Homo sapiens: one gene and its partners. The protein of the gene in region 1 interacts with the protein of each later gene in a biochemical or structural test. Each region holds a gene or a part of one and is shown in the gene's direction. Other genes may lie near its edges.

The links.
Region 2: the proteins of IGDCC3 (region 1) and LTF interact in a biophysical measurement, tested with the Homo sapiens proteins (one large-scale study listed by IntAct).
Region 3: the proteins of IGDCC3 (region 1) and IGFBPL1 interact in a biophysical measurement, tested with the Homo sapiens proteins (one large-scale study listed by IntAct).

What each region holds. Positions count from the first base shown.
Region 1 is NC_000015.10:65,336,503-65,340,002, reverse strand, and holds part of IGDCC3 (immunoglobulin superfamily DCC subclass member 3 precursor), read left to right. Parts: intron 1-3,500.
Region 2 is NC_000003.12:46,447,697-46,451,420, reverse strand, and holds part of LTF (lactotransferrin isoform 1 preproprotein), read left to right. Parts: intron 1-747; coding exon 748-926; intron 927-1,392; coding exon 1,393-1,567; intron 1,568-2,403; coding exon 2,404-2,558; intron 2,559-3,724. UniProt on the Homo sapiens protein: Transferrins are iron binding transport proteins which can bind two Fe(3+) ions in association with the binding of an anion, usually bicarbonate. Lactoferricin binds to the bacterial surface and is crucial for the bactericidal functions.
Region 3 is NC_000009.12:38,417,935-38,421,658, reverse strand, and holds part of IGFBPL1 (insulin-like growth factor-binding protein-like 1 precursor), read left to right. Parts: intron 1-2,478; coding exon of another isoform or gene 2,479-2,543; exon of another isoform or gene 2,544-2,560; intron 2,561-3,724. UniProt on the Homo sapiens protein: IGF-binding proteins prolong the half-life of IGFs and have been shown to either inhibit or stimulate the growth promoting effects of the IGFs in cell culture. They alter the interaction of IGFs with their cell surface receptors.

The sequences.
Region 1 (3,500 bases):
TGTGGACAAAGGTGCCTTCTTCCTTTCTCCCCACCTACTGCCAAGCAGGACTTTGTCCTCCCTGTCGCTTTCTCTGGCCCTCACACCTGGAAGACCATTGCCCATCACCCCCTTCCCATCACCCAACTTGAAGTGAGGGACCCAAAACTGTCCCTACCAGACCAACAGATATCCGCAGGAGTGTAAAGCATCAAGAGCCAAAGTCACAGCACCACTGTCACGTGCACCAGCCACAGACACAATACCACCAACACCAGACATAAATACTCAATGCTAATACACTAGCTGGTCTGTACTGTCATCAGCAACACAGTGGCCTGCAGGGTGACTTGTTCAGATCTCAGGGTGCCCTGAAGTCCGGCCCTCAGCCCCACTTCCTCATGTTTGCTCAGGGACCCTCTCCCTAGAGAGACATAATGAGGGACAGTCCACCCGGCTCTGTGGCCTGCTGGCACAAGCCAGGGCATAAACACACTTGTGAATCAAACATGTTCCACCCTGAGAAACTAGAGGGGGCCGAAATGGCCTCAACATCCCTTTTCCTCAAACTTCCTAAAGAAAAAAATGCTGTGCCAGTCCGGGCAACGTAGGGAGACCCTGTCTCTATAAGAAATACAAAAATTGGCCAGGCACAGTAGCTCACGCCTGGAATCCCAGCACTTTGGGAAGCCAAGGCGGGCGGATCACGAGGTCAGGAGTTTGAGACCAGCCTGACTAACATGGTGAAAGCCCATCTCTACTAAAAATACAAAAATTAGCTGGGCATGGTGGCGTGCATCTGTAGTACCAGCTACTCGGGAGGCTGAGGCAGGAGAGTTGCTTAAGCCTGGGAGGCGGAGCTTGCGGTGAGCTGAGATCATGCCATTGCACTCCAGCCTGGGTGACAGAGCAAGATTCCGTCTCAAAAAGAAAAAGAAAAAAGAAATTAAAAAATTAGCTGGGCGTGGTGGTGCGCGCTTGTGGTCCCAGCTCCTCAGGAGGCTGAGGCGGGAGGATCACCTGAGCCTGAGAGGTCAAGGCTGCAGTGAGCTAGGATCATACCACTGCACATCAGCTTGGGTGACAGTGTGAGATCCTGTCTCAAAAGAAAAAAAAAAGAAAAAATACTATTGCTTATGAACCAGATGTGTGTGGAAGATTTTAGGAGACTCCAGCTAAGCTGAGTTTGCTGGCCCAGAGATTGTGGATCCTGTTCATGAAGACAGATGAGGAGGCAGGGCTGGAGGGGCCCTGAAGAGCGACTCATCCACTCCCTTCATTTGTGGCTGAGAGGATGCTGCCTGCCCAGGGTCTCACAGAAATCCTAGGACGCCTAAGGAATATGCAGGACTGACCAAAGAGTTGAGAGAGGGTATAAGGAAGGGAGGGAAGGAGGAGCCTCAGATGAAGAGGACCACACCCTCCCTCTTGCACCTGCCCTTCCTGGACCACACCTGTGCAGCCAGCTGGGCTCCCAGGGGTGGGGGTGAAGAGCCTTCCCTAGAGCTCATTACCTTTCCTCCACACCGTGAGAAGAAGCTAGTCCAGCATGCAGTCCACTCTGCAGTTACCTGGCCTTGGAGAGTGAGAAACTTGCTGGAAAACTAAGGGACATCCCAGCAGAGAGCCTGGCCTCAGTTTCCCTTTCCTAAAATAAAGAGATTAGCTTCAGATTCATGGTTTTCAATTACTCTTAAAGGCAAAGCTACCCTTCAAATTAAATGTTTAGCAGAACTGTAACCAAGTCAAGCTGATCGAGAGGTACAGCAAGGTGCTGCTCTGACGGAAGGGAAATGTGAGCAGGAGGTGGGCTTAAGTGCATCCAGGGGACCCTTAGGAGTCAGTCGCACTATGCACAGTGACGGATATCAGACTGGCTCCATACCTGTGACCCTTCCAGCTCTAGCACCATGTCCAACTGTGCTGTGGCTGCTTAGTGCTGAGGGGAGGAGGAGGGAGTCAGGCAGTGGAAGCCAGACTTTCTCCATCCCCAGCGCCCTGATAAGAGGCAGCCCTTTCCCTTGTATATTTCCTCAGGCCAGCTCCTAGCACTGGGTGCCTCCAGGGAGCCCAGGATGGGGCTAGAAGCACAAAAGGATTTGTTCCTTAATGAGGAGGCATCTGTAGTCAGCAGAGCCATTAGTCCCCACCCCAGGTCCCTGGGGGACTGGGAACTCCTATCCAGCTGGAGTGAAGAGGAGGCTGGCAGCTCCCCATCTTCGAAGGAGCAGGGCCTGGGGGATGTAGACAGCTGACCCGGGAGCCTGGGTGCCCTCTCCACTCCCTGGGCTCATGGCATCCAGTTGCCTTCCTGGAGGTGGAGGGCTAGAGGCAGTAGAGGGGCTCCAGCAGCACCTCGGCCCCCTCCCCCAAGTCCCTGGGCTTACTTACCTCCCTTGGCCAAACACAGCCTTTGGCCTGAGGCCGGGAAGGCCCACCTCCCAGTGCTCCCTGGGGATCCTCTCACCAAGCCTGATGGGAACACCAGCTGGGACACTTGCCCCCACCTCCCACCCCCAGGGCCCCAAGGTACTGTTTATAAGGGCTGTACCTACGTGGGGATGTGTGTGATTGATTACCTGCACAGAACCAGAGGTACACACCCGCCGCAGCAGTGGACGGATTCCCGTCCAGACACAGACACTCAGACCACATACACGGAGACACAGCCCCGCACACATGTACAAAGAGGCGCACACACCCATCAGACACACTCCCAGGAGGCCCTCAAAGACGAGGAGGCAGGGCGGTGATTTTTATGCATGTTTATATTTAATGAACCACATGCAAATGAGATGGAGAACACGCCACAAAGGAGCCAGCCCCCAGAGACTCTGGGTGGAAGGGCACAAAGGCTCGCCTTTTGGGCTGCCCTGGAGGCCAGATCAGGCTGGTGGATTGAGGGGGCCTGAGATGGGGGATGGGGGCCACGGGGAGGGTGGCCTGCCCACACCAGGGAGCCAGGAGCAGGAGCCAGGACGAGCTCCAGTGTCCCTGCTGCTGTGGGGGAGGGCTTCCTCTGGGAGGGGAGCGACTGTCCCAGTTGATGGAGTGCCTGAGACGAGGGGCTGCCTGCCTGGACAGATGGTGTACCGCCTTCCTGCACTTGAAGCAAAGTGGATTTTAATGAAATCGCAGCCCTGGTGCTGAAGCTGGGAACCCGAGTGGGAGGGGCTCCTTCCCCAGGCATTACAGGGTGGGGTTTGGGCATGGGTGGAAACGGGGGTGGGCAGAAACACTTAACCAGCCTGTAACTGGGAGGGGAGGGTGCACCACAGCCCCTCTGCACTGATGATCTCTGCAGACCAGAGTTCAAGCAGTTAGTTCAGATCCCCAAAAGGTGGGGAGGGGTCCCTGAATATTTATGACACATTGAAATGTAGATTGGTAGGTCTGACAGTCTTCTGAGAGGCTTGTCACCTTGGATGGATGCAACACCCTCTTGGGGTGCATCGAGAGACTGCAGATGAACTGGGGGTGGGAGGAGTAGGAGAAGGAGGGACCAAAAAAAAGCTCCCGGG
Region 2 (3,724 bases), on another chromosome or scaffold:
AATGGAATACACTGGTAAACCTTCATTCCAATCTATTAGCTTTTTAAATACTCTGTGAGATTGAGTTAGTTAGTACGTTATTTACAAATTTTGCATTTATGTTCGTAAGTAAAATAAACTTTTAATTCTTCCCTCCTATACTTTTTCTGATTTTGACATCAAGGTTGTACTAATCTCATAAAATGACTCGGGCAAGATTTTTTTCACTTTACACATTCTGAAGCAACTTATATATGATATTCCACATTTGCCTGAACTCATTCATAAAACCATTCTTCCCCTTCTTTTGATATACTCAGTGTTGGAAAGTGTCTCACCTTCCTGCCTTATTCCCTGCCTTGTTAACATTTTTGTCATTTTTATTCTTCCCAGAGATGTGAGTAAGGGAGCAACCCTTGGTGGCCCCCTGAGCTTGTCTCTGCAAAGTGACTTTTCCAGGCAGAGATGCCGCAGAAACAGACGGGTCTGGTTTGGCCTCTCTGGCCTGCCAGGCAGCAGCTGCACGGGAACCCCAGGGTGGCCTAAGTGATTTAGGATGAGGATCACACCTCGGCTGCCCCCTGAGGCTTTTGGGGCACTACCTTTACCTTTCTGAGTGTTCTGGAGCAAACCCCTGCCTTTCTGACCCTCAGTTTTGTCAGCTATCTCCCCAAGCTCAAAATTCTATAGGGAGAAGGGGAACTATAGCTCGAGGTTACTGCTGGAGTCGGCTTATCTAGACTCCCTCCCACCTCACCTTCCCTGCAGAGGACCTGTCAGACGAGGCTGAAAGGGACGAGTATGAGTTACTCTGCCCAGACAACACTCGGAAGCCAGTGGACAAGTTCAAAGACTGCCATCTGGCCCGGGTCCCTTCTCATGCCGTTGTGGCACGAAGTGTGAATGGCAAGGAGGATGCCATCTGGAATCTTCTCCGCCAGGCACAGGTATCTTCACCCACGGTCCTCCCCACTTGCTTGGATATGGGGGGCAGGGAGCAAGGTTTCTTACTTCCCTGACTTCTGCCACTCCAGAAGTCCTGTAGCTTTGCTGCAGGATAGCACACTAATGCATTGGGCTGCTTGCCCAGGCTGTACTGTGGACAGCAGAAGCAATGAAACTCTTCTGTCACACGGGCTGACAGCGTCTTATGATGGGAGCAGAAGCAGGGGGTGGTCGATGCAATCTTCTCAGGGCCCTAAGGTGCTTGGACCTCAGCAACTCTTCAAAGAATGAGCCATAGCTGAGCTTGGGTCTCCGAGATGGCACAAGTCCCTCTGCAGGAGGGTCTCAACCGAGGCTCCTGCTCTCAGTTAGAATGATCCCAAAGCTCCAGATACTCTTTTTTAACATCATTTTTTTGTTTCCTCCCTATTTACCATTGACACCATAATTCTATTTTTTCTTAATTAGGAAAAGTTTGGAAAGGACAAGTCACCGAAATTCCAGCTCTTTGGCTCCCCTAGTGGGCAGAAAGATCTGCTGTTCAAGGACTCTGCCATTGGGTTTTCGAGGGTGCCCCCGAGGATAGATTCTGGGCTGTACCTTGGCTCCGGCTACTTCACTGCCATCCAGAACTTGAGGAAAAGTGAGTGAGCCCAGGAGGGTCCTGAGGTCCGCCTGGTGTGGTCTTCTACTTCCCAGCAGGTGGCCCTACTTTGTGGCGGTCACTCCTTTTCCCAGACACTGTGGGGTCATCGTGGAGGTTTGATGCAGGTGTGAGTGTCTTCTGTGGATTAGGTCAGGTGTCTCTAAAAGAATAGTCTGGCCACCTGATCAGTGCACGTCAGGCTCCCCAGGCCTGGCAGAAAAATCAGTTTGCCTCCTATTAAGTGAGAAACATGAACATGAACAAAGATAGCCAGGACCCCTCCTGGATGAATCCGGGGGCCTGGATTTACCCACACTTCCCAGGCCCAGACCTTGAACTTAGTTGGGGACACCATGGTGGGGGAACTCAGCTATGGCTCCTTCTCTACTGGGGGGCTGGGGGTGGGAGTCTGGGGGAACCCAGAGGCTGCACCGTAGTTATTGGTGGTGATTGCAGGCGTTAGGGGAAGTCAGGGTTGGGCTCAAGGTCCCCTAGGCCATCTCTTGGGACTGTCACTGGTCTCTGGGTCATGGAGCGTTTATCCTCAGAGACAGAGACAATAGGCGCCTCCTGACTCTAAAGATTAATGGATAGATTAGAAGCCAGGGAACTTCTCCAAAGGAACAGAAGTGGGAAACACAGGGAGCTCTGTGGACCTGAAGAAGGGGCTTGGAGCTGAGAAGTGGAGGAGGAGAGGGTATGGGTCCACATGTCCACACATGTACTGTAGCTCCTGTTCCAGGGAGAGTCTGGGCAGGACCCTGGCTCTGGGGAGGTTGGACAACCTGGCAAAGCTCAGGTTGCCCAGCCACCTGCGGTCTTCCCTCTGGCAGGTGAGGAGGAAGTGGCTGCCCGGCGTGCGCGGGTCGTGTGGTGTGCGGTGGGCGAGCAGGAGCTGCGCAAGTGTAACCAGTGGAGTGGCTTGAGCGAAGGCAGCGTGACCTGCTCCTCGGCCTCCACCACAGAGGACTGCATCGCCCTGGTGCTGGTAGGGAGCTCCATCACAGGGGCGGGCGGTGGGCCCGGTGGAAGACCTAGGGCCTGGGCATCTGCTTAAAGTGAAGTCAACAGTCAAAGAGGCCACGGGGGCCTGGGTGAGGCAGGGATGCCTGGAGAGGTGTGCTCAGGGCCAGAAAGCATTTTAGTTTCAAAAAGCAGTTTACTGTGGGTTTCCCACTCCTCTGGTTATAAGAACAACTCAGGATTATTATAAGGAATTTGGAAAATATGGAAAGGTATTATGTTAAAACAAAACAACAACAAACCCCCCAAACCACCTGTGATCTCACACAGAGGGACAGACATGGTTAAAGTCTGGCTAATTCTCCATTCCAGTATTTCTCTGCACATCTGCAGATATGCATGCAACAATAATGAAGTGTTGCAGTATGTCGTTTTTAAGCCCTTTTCACTAAACAGCGTATAATGGGCATTCTTCCACATGAATATTTACTCTTGGAAAGCATTAATTTTTTTTTTTTTAAGAGACAGATTCTTGATCTGTCACCCAGGCTGGAGTGCAGTGGTGCGACCACATCTCACTGCAGCCTGGAACTCTTGGGCTCAAGTGATCCTCCCATCTCAGCTTCCCAAGTAGCTGGGGCTACAGGCATACGCCACCACACCTGCATAATTATTATTATTATTATTGTAGCGACAGGGTCTCGCTTTGTTGCCCAGGCTCGTCTCGAACTCCTGGGCTCAAGCAATCTTCCTGCTTCGGCCTCCCAAAGTGCTGGGATTACGGGTGTGAGCCACAGCACTCGGACGAAAACATTTTTTAAACATGCTTCCAGGATATCTTTTATGTGAATATGGCTCAGTTTAGTCATGCCCCCATTCCTCTTTGTCCCTTACTTTGCTATTATCAATAACCCTGTGGTGAGCATTCTTGAGTAGAAATCTTTGTCCACTTCTCTATTTTTAATATAGTTGTAAAAATATTACTGGGTCAAAGAGGAAGTTTCATACTACTGATGAGTCCATGATCCTGTGTTGTAGCCTGGACTTGTTCATTCTGGTGGTGGGCCAATATGACGACTTCAGCTTATGTGTTGGACAACTTCTGTGTAGCGCTTGGAGTGGAGTGCTAATGAGTTCAGATTAGATGAGGCCAGCTGTTCCCATCTGTGTCCTCAGTCAGTGAGACTGCTC
Region 3 (3,724 bases), on another chromosome or scaffold:
CCTCTGGGGATCCCGGTTGAAGGAAAACAGACTGTGAGTCAGAGCAGGGCTGTTCTGCTTCAATATTCATGATAAAATCACCCCTCCTGACTCCTTGGGTACCCAAGCACCTAGATTTCATGGAATGAGGCCTCGGGAAGTATTTATTATGTTGTTCACAGTGTGTGAAGGGCCCTTATACATGCCTCTGAGGAGCCTGGGGAAGCAGTTTTCAGGCTTAAATTCTGCCCTTTCCTCCTATGCCCTGAAATGCCCCAAACTGCCACATAATGAGAGTGATCCTTTGATCCGCACACATGTATGGAAGACTCACATATGAATAATTCTTACTGTTGGAAATTGCTTTTGCATCCTTTTTTTTTTTTTTTTTTTTTGAGACAGGGTCTCACTGTATCTCCCAGGTGGAATACAATGGCTTGATCACAGCCCACTGTGATCCTGGGCTCAAGGAATCCTCCTGCCTCAGCCTCCCAAGTAGCTGGGACTATAGGCACATACCATCATGCCCAGCTGATTTTTAGAATTTTTTGTAGAGACAGGATCTTACTGTGTTTCCCAGGCTGTTCTTGAACTCCTGGCCTCAAGCACTCCTCCCACCTCAGCCTCCCAAAGTGCTGAAATTACAGACATGAGATACCATCCCTGGGCTGCACCCATCTTTTTACATGATTTTTACAAGTGTCCTGGGGAGGTCTCCTTCCCATTTGATAGAAGGGAAAGCTGAGGCACATGGAAGGAAATTCCCTGGAGCCACCTGGCTGGTCCCAGCTGTGAAAGGGCTCCAGTGTAGGTTTGCCTGGCTGTTTTGTTTTGTTTTGTTTTGAGACAGAGTCTCACTCTGTCACCCAGGCTGGAGTGCAGTGGTGTGATCTTGGCTCACTGCAAGCTCCACCTCCTGGGTTCACGCCATTCTCCTGCCTCAGCCTCCAGAGTAGCTGGGACTACAGGCGCCCACCACCACGCCTGGCTAATTTTGTTTTTTGTACTTTTAGTAGAGACGGGGTTTCACTGTGTTAGTCAGGATGGTCTTGATCTCCTACCTCATGATCTGCCCGCCTCGGCCTCCCAAAGTGCTGGGATTACAGGCGTGCGCCACCATGCCTGGCCTGCCTCGCTATTTTCAGATGGGCGCTGCACAGCTAGCCGCTAGCAACCTGATCAGTAAGGTGCTGTGCACCCGCCAGCCTTGAATCTTGGGGGTTTCTCAATCTGGGTCCACCTTCCTGTTTTTCCCAAGGTTTGTCACTTGTCCCTCTATTTAGCACTGGGCTATAGCTCCTGAGAGAAGCCTTGAAGGATGGGGAGAGAATCCCAATGCTAGCAAGGGGGAGGCACAGCATGAACTGAGGCTCAGAGGTGGGAGCCCTTTGGTGGGTGTGCAAGTGGGCCCATAGGGCCGAGGCCTGGTAGGATGGTTGGGAAAGGAGATGACACCCCAGAGTAGTTTGGGGTAGGCCACTGCAAGCCTTGGGTGCAAGGCCGAAGGGGGAAGCTTCATTCTGCACTTTGGGAGGCTGAGGTGGAAGGATTGCTTGAGGCCAGGAGTTCAAGGATAGCCTGGGCAACGCAGCAAGATCCCATCTCTACAAAAAATTCTAAAAACTAGCTGGACATGATGGCATGTGCCTGTAGTCCCAGCTACTTGGGAGGCTGAGGCAGGAGGATTTCTTGAGCCCAGGAGTTCGAGGCTACAGTGAGCTATGATCATGCCACTGTACTCCGCCTAGGAGACAGAGTGAGACCCTGTCTAAAAAGAAGAAGAAGAAGGAGGAGGAGGAGGAGGAGGAGGAGGAGGGGGAGGAGGAGAAGGAAGAAGAAGGATGCAAAAGCAATTTCCAACAGTAAGAATTATTCATACGTGGGTCTTCGATACATTCTGAATTATTGGTTCAGCTTCTCACTGGTAAGGTGGTATGGCCTTAGTATTATGATGATTATTATTGCTCTCATTACTTTAAAGGCTGGATAGTTCAGTGTGTGCACCCTATTTGTTAGCATTGGGAGAGGGTTGGGGTCCTACGGACAGCAAGTTAATGTCATGTTTCAAATGATAAATTAGATAGGAACAGGGTCCCGGCCAGCACCCGCCAGGGCATTGAGCCCTGGCAGCTTCGGTGAGCTCCTGAGACCCTGAATCTTAGAAAATTCACCTTGGTTGAAATTCCAGCTCCACTTAGAAACCTAGGTCTGTGCTAGTGTGTGTTACCAGGTAACCAGGAGAGGCAGCGCATGCCACTTCGTGAGAGGGACAAAGAAGGGGGTTTGTGCTCAAAACCCTTTCATGCTGAGGGAGGAGATCTGAGGCAGAGGCTGCAGGGAGCAGGATTAAGCTGTTTCTTGTTCCACATCATAACGTGACTATTAGCATAAATTATCAGGGCTGTTCAGTGTGTTGATTATTAAAATCTTTGGTTATGTGCTTTTTAATACAAGCAGATGGGGTCCTGGGGAATGACTTGATATCCTTTCTTTCCCTAGCACCATTAACTTTAAAGAAATCTCAGAGGGATTTGGGAAGATTTTTTCATTCCAGCCATCAATGATCGATATAATTGACGAGGTAGGGGGACAAATCACCACACACTATAATAATAATATTGATCCCTTTCATTTGTACAGATCCACACAGTTAATAACACAGTCACATCCATTTTCTCCCTTCACCCCAAGGATGCGAGGCTGCGGTCATCATCTTCATTTGCAGATAAAAAGGAAATGATTAGCAACTTGCCCAAGCTCAAGTGGTTGGCAGCGAGACCCCTGGGCATTTGAGTCTCCCTCTGGTACTGTTTTTGCTCACCCCACAGTACTGCCTCCTGTGACCATGTGCATCTGGGTGACTGTCTTACCTGCTGGTTAGCCCTTGGATGGTTGGATTTGTGCAATTCTAGGGCTATTGCTGGCACAAGCAGAAGGAAACAAGTATCAGCAAGGAAGAGCTATAGGGGGATGAAGCTTCCACATTCACAGACTGGGCTAGCTAGAAGCCATCCTCCCTCCTGCAAGCCACATCATTCTTGTGAAAGGCAGGCAGAAAGGAAAGCCCTGGTTCCTCTGGCAGTGTGGCGGCTCTGGCAACAGTAAGAGTATGTGCTTGGCTCCCCAGAGTGAGGGCTGTAGTCATGGTCCCTGGTGCCTCTCACCCAAGGCCAGAGGAGGCTCTCATGCATGCAGGGAGCTTTAGAGGAGATGCCTAAGGACAGCACACCCTGCCTGAGTCCTCAAGTCCCTCTGCAGAGGTCTTTTACAGTTTGTAAGGGGTCTTGCAATTGTTCCTCACAACAGCCTTTGAGGAGTGGGCTGGGAAGGGAATAGATTCCTGTGCCCATTTTAAAGAAGAAGACACTGAGGCCAAGACTGGGACGTGGCAGAGAAAGGATTTGAACCTGGACTCTTCCACCCCTGCCTGCCACGCTGTCCTTCCTGCCTGTGGTGGCAGCCATGACGTTGAGCACTCCAGTGCCATGCTGGAATGAGCCCTTGGGGATAGTAGGGACTAGAAATGTCCTGCTGGTGTCAAGGACACATTGCTCATGTTATGGGTTATCTTCATAAGAGCTGTTCCCTGGGGGTGATGTTTGGGGTGTTTCATTGTTGTATAGAAAACAGCTAACACGGCAGGCCTGCGACCATATCCTCAGAAAGGCCTGCTGGCAAGGTTGGCCTTGGGCTGGTATCTGGGGACTTAGATTTCAGGGGGGTTCCACTCTTCTCAGAATTGATG